Linked DNA regions of Homo sapiens: region 2 is linked to region 1. The links come from fine-mapping of genetic effects on gene expression. Tissue or cell type: whole blood. Region 1 holds a variant in brackets; the other region holds the start of a gene. All regions are shown on one strand. Distances are between the middles of the regions.

Region 1 (2,685 bases):
ACAATCATGTTCCTAAGTGTAGCAAATTCCAGCACCCACACTCCGCAGTTTCACCAGAAACAGGCAAGAGCAGACGAATACTCAGAAGAGACAATCGCTCCTCACAAACTCTTGCAGGCTACAGAGAAGGAATATGCATGATAATGAAGAATCACCACACAGACAACTGGTATTGCCAAATGAACTTGGCACTGTTCTGTGGGGAAATTTAAAGCCCACCACGAGTCCATCCTAAAAAGCCAAGAGGCACTGGTTAGAAAACCTCCTAGAAAACAGAAGGCCCATGTCCGTTTAAGTTGGCCCTGGAGCACTGAATCATATGATGTGCTTTTGTTGCTATTTTTACATTTTTTAAAAAGCCAACAAAGTAGCTTTCCAGACGTCCATGAATGGTACAGTGTGCTGAGCAGGCCTAACTGTTTAGCTTCCAGAAAGAACTCCCTCACCCCACCCGACATTCTGCTATTCTGCTCTCCCCGCCCCCCATGACAATATTTCATTTGTGACTCAAGTAACTTTTTAAAAAAGATATGCTTGATACTCTTCTGAAGCACTTATTTGGAAATAATTTGGCTTTAAGACTCTTTCCAGAAGGCACAAACTAGAGAAAGTCCCTAAAAAGAGAATACAAAAGTCAGAGAGGAGAAGAATATTGAAAACGGGAGCCCTGCACAGCTGAGGAGACACGTGACGCCCTAAAATACTATGCCATGCGAGGGTTCGGAAGCCTCTCAGCTTTGTGCATGTCAGAGGATGAAGACTGGAAGGGAGGGAGGGAAGTGAGGAAAGAGAAACACAAGTGCACAAAGTGGGTCAAGCTGCAATTTGCAGGAGGCCAATGGTTTACGACACAGGACAACATAAATGGAATGAAATCAATTAGGTACTGCTCACCTGTTGACCTAATGCTTATTGAATGTCTTATAACCAAGATACATGGCTTTGCCCATTAGCTTATGGAGTTAGAAGCCACACATATAAAAGATCAAGTGGTTTCACTTATGACACCCTCTGGAACTGATGCTCGTCTATTGGAAGGAGGGAAGGGAAGGAGGGGTAGAGGTTCTGAACCACCGGGGATGACAAAGCCAAAAAAGTTTCTATTCTTATGGAATCACGTCTGTATAACTGTTTGTAATATTGCAAATTTCACATTTTAAATGCACTTGAAATGTTGTCATATGTATGTATTAAGCTACACGTAAATGAAGATCCTTGACTTGGTATTCTATCAAACGCTGTTCTCCGATGAGACGTGACCAATCACACACAGGAACTATGCCACGCTTCCTTCCACAGGAGAAAGTAAGTAAGTAAGCAGAAGGCGAGGTTGGAAAAAAGTGCTTCTTACCTCTTTCTGGCTTCTTCATATTGCCAATTAAGTCTGACTCGGTCTACAAGTCTTGTTTTATCATCAAAGACAAACTTTCCGGAACAGAAGAGAGAAAAAAAGAAAGGAAACGCATATTAAAAACATATTTCCAAAATAGCAACTTCACTTAAACTTTCGGCAGCAATGAGAAATATTCTTCATCTCTTTCACTTTCAATCTGTGCAAGGTCTGGAAGGAAACACTGAATAAC[C/G]CTTTGCGGCCACCCCTGGCTGGGGAGGGGGGAGGGGGAAGGGAAGACTCTTGCTTGCCTAAACTGGTAGGGTTTTTTGTTTTTTTTTACAGCAGCAGCATATCTATCTATTCTGTAATTCCAAACAACAACCACAAATTAGGTTTTAAAAGAAGTAGGAAATTACTTAGTAAAAGTTGATACAAAGGCAAAAACCAGTCACCCGATTTTGTGCAGTACATTCTCTAATTCCTCAGTAAACGTAAAATAATGATGTTCTACTCAGAAGCTCCACGGTCTGAGGAAGCTGGACTAGCTGTGTGACGGATGGGCTGGTGGACGCCTTCTGATGCCACGAGGTGTGTTAAAGAACCAAGGGCAAGCCAGGCGCGGTGGCTCACGCCTGTAATCCCAGCACTTTGGGAGTCTGAGGCGGGCGGATTACGAGGTCAGGAGATCGAGACCATCCTGGCTAACACGGTGAAACCCCGCCTCTACTAAAAATACAAAAAATTAGTCGGGCGTAGTGGCAGGCGCCTGTAGTCGCAGCTACTCGGGAGGCTGAGGCAGGAGAATGGCATGAACCCAGGAGGCGGAGCTTGCAGTGAGCCGAGACTGAGCCACTGCACTTCAGCCTGGGCGACAGAGCAAGACTCCGTCTCAAAAAAAAAAAAAAAAAAAGAACCAAGGGCAAAAGGAAAGCAAGCAAGGTCTCAAAAAGCCAGAGCTCGGGGAGTACCAATATAGAGTTAGCCTAAATGCGGTGCTCTGTGACGAGTAGATATACTTAAATATTTTTGTACCAGTTACATTGATGACAATAAAATCCTACACAAAACAAAAAAAGACATGTACAGGAAGTAACTGTAGTACATTTTGGTTAATTCCTCATTCCTGCAAATATTCACACAACTCCAGTTTCAATAAATCAGCTCCATCTGTTGATCTGACCTTACTAGATCACATATTATGGCCACCAAGTCTTTACATTTTTGAAATAACTTCCCATCAACAAGTATCTGAAAATATTCAACTTGAATGATTAGCAGTGAATTTATCGACACGAGTTTTGATCTATGTTGATGAAAAATGTCTTCGCAAATTTATTGCCTTGAATGGCAAG
Region 2 (2,685 bases), 84 kb after region 1:
CCCGGGACCGGGATGGGCGAGGCTGCCGCAGAGAAAGGAAAAGAGGGCCATCTGTCAGCCCCAGGAGAGGAAATTCCAGGAGCCCAGTTCCCAGGCGCCGGACAGCGGGTGACGTGAGGGAACCGAATGAGAGGGTCCGCCCAGCGGCGGGGGACCTGTAGGCGGCCGGCCTCGGCGCTCAGAGGGCTCGAGGCCTGGAGAAGGGGCACCTCCATTCTTGGTCAGAGCCCTGGGAGTCGGGGTATTGGGAGGGTGGATCCTCTCCCGGACCCCCGGAACCAAAGATCTTCACCCAGCCCCGAGGGCCTCCTGGTGTCTCCGATCCTCTCCCTGGGCCCAAGGGATGGGGGCGCCTCGATCGTAGCCTGGACCGGAGCACTCCAGGGAGTCCCCTGGTTCCGGGGATGGAGGCGCTCCGAGCTCTGCCCGGGCCCGGGGGCTCTCGGCGGCGGCCCCGCGCTGGGCGGGGCGTGTCCCCAGCGCATCCGCGGTGGCGCCGGCCGGCGGCCCGGGTCGTAGCGCCCGCGCCGGGTCTGGCGCCCCCAGCCGGCCCGCTTACCGGTCGCGGGGGTCGATCCACGACGTCTGGCGCGTGTTGTGGTCAATGTAAAAGACGCGACCGTCGTAGTCTCGCGCCTCCTCCCAGCCGGCGGGCAGCGGCAGCTCGGCGCTCTCCCGGGCCCGCGGCGGCGGCGCGGAAGGAGCTGGGGGCGTGGGGACCGCGGCGGGGGGCGCCGGCGGCGCGGTTCCCGCTGGGGCTGCGCAGAAGGCGGCGGCTCCCGCGGGGCCTCGCGCGGCTGTCCCCGCCGTCGCCGCCGGCCGCCGCTCAGCCAAGGCATGACGGCGCGGGCCCCGCCGCCGCCCGGCCGCCCCGCGCGCGCCGCCTCCTCCGCCAGCACTAAGGCCCGGCGCCCGGGGCGCGGGGGCGGCCGCGGGGAGCCGCCCGCCGCTCCTGGCGCATCCTCCGCCCGGCGCCCGTGCACCGGCGTCCGCCCGCCCGCCCTAGCAAGCCGCTGCCCGCGCCGCCCACTCCGTTCAGGTAGCCCGGGTGGCCGCCGCGCGCGAAGTCACAGCCCGGGAGCCGCCGCCGCCGCCGCCGCCGCTGCCGGCCGCCCCTCCGTTCCCGCGGCGCGCCCGGCCATCTTCGTTCCTCGGCGCGGCCCGGGCGAGCAGGGGCAGGGCGTTCGCAGGCCCCGCCTCCGGCCGTCCCGCCCCGTTCTCACCCAGGCCCCGCGGCTCCTCCCACGCCGGCGGCTCCACCCACGCCGGCTGCTCCTCCCGAATCTCCCACGGAGGCTCCCGCTCCTCCCGCCGCCTCTGCTTTTCCACCCACTCCCGCTGCTCCGCCTCCCCCGGCCCCGCGTCCTCCGCGCCTCTCCGTCGCCGGCTGCTCCGCCCCCAGTCTCCCTCGGGGTCCTCCTCGGCGCTCGGCTCCTCGACCCCACCCCCACCCCTCCGCTTGCTCCTCCCCCTCCGCCGTCCTCCCTCTCCGCGCGCTCCTCGCTCTCTCCCTCCCGCTCCGCCACCTTCCTCCGGCCTCGGGAAACCGCATGGAGGCCAGGATGGGCGCCGCCGCGTCAGTCCGCCCCCGGGCCCCCGCGTAGAGGAAGGCGGGCGGGGAGGACGACGCCCTACCCGGACTGCGGGCGCGGCCTGCCTGGGGTGACTCCTCGGGCGCAAACAATTCCCGAGAGAGCGGGCAGTGCCCTCCCTTCACCCGCTCCCGGGCTCTGGCTGTCTGGAGACCCTCTGCGCACTTGGCGGGAGGCTGCGCCCTCGGTCTCCCACACAACCCGTCTGGTCCCGCGAAGGTGGGAAAAGCCCCTGAAGGCGGGGCCGAGGGAGCTGAGGAGCTGGGGGAGCCCGCGGCCGGTCCTCTCGGGCGGCGCAGGGAGGACGCCTCTGGAAGCGGGCAGCTGGGCAGGTGGCCACTTTGCGTCCCCGCCAGGACAGCCCTAGAAGGGCTAACCTGGGGGCCCACACTAGGCGGGAGTTCCTTGACCTTCCCTGAGCGCTTCATCCGGTTTGTGGGGTCTGATCGTTTGAGCGGAGACCCAAGTAGACCATTGCTGGGGAGGAAGCCGGGTCAACTCCTAAAACTTTCAGCCTAGACGGGAACTTCTGTTTCACTGGCTCCCAGCTGGGGAAGCTGAAGCTCCAGAGTTGGGGCTGTGTCTTGCTCTAAATCTCCCACCTACTTCGTGCCCCAGACCCACAGCCGCAACACGTTATGCCAGGAAATGCAGGACAGTATCAGGGAGATTTTTAAACAGTTACAGTGATACAAAAATATCTGGTAGAGCCTGATTGAAATCCAGATACACAGGGGAAGAGACTGGAGGAAAATGTCCTGAAATGCTCACAAGAGTTTGCATTCCTTTGGCGGGATTTTTAAAAATGATTTGCCTTCCAATTTTTTGTAAAATGGTAATATTACTTTTATGAGGGGAAAGGTTGTTTTAAAAAAGAAGAATGGGCCGGGCGCGGTGGCTCACGCTTGTAATCCTAGCACTTTGGGAGGCCCAGGCGGGCGGATCACGAGGTCAGGAGTTCGAGACGAGCCTGGCCAGCATGGTGAAATCCCCGTCTCTACTAAAAATACAAAAATTAGCCGGGCATGGTGGCGCACGCCTGTAATCCCAGCTACTCGGGAGGCTGAGGCAGGAGAACTGCTTGAACCTGGGA

What was found. PIP is the estimated chance that this variant, and not a neighbour inherited with it, causes the effect.
Region 2: WWC3 starts here. The variant in region 1 is fine-mapped to the expression of WWC3 in whole blood (TOPMed, PIP 0.96). The same link has a PIP of 0.9 or more in blood mononuclear cells.

What each region holds. Positions count from the first base shown.
Region 1 is chrX:10,097,246-10,099,930 of GRCh38, reverse strand. It overlaps WWC3 (WWC family member 3), which reads right to left. Exons shown (of 24, transcript NM_015691.5): 9 at 1,352-1,425. Among named protein-coding and RNA genes, the nearest start is that of CLCN4, 58 kb to the left of the region's middle. RefSeq lists an enhancer at 1,498-1,547. The variant C/G (reference allele first, on the strand shown) is at 1,584.
Region 2 is chrX:10,013,733-10,016,417 of GRCh38, reverse strand. WWC3 (WWC family member 3) reads right to left here and starts at 1,164. Exons shown (of 24, transcript NM_015691.5): 1 at 745-1,164; 2 at 560-742. The coding sequence starts at 839. RefSeq lists silencers at 1,192-1,251, 1,292-1,461 and enhancers at 1,282-2,165, 2,166-2,685.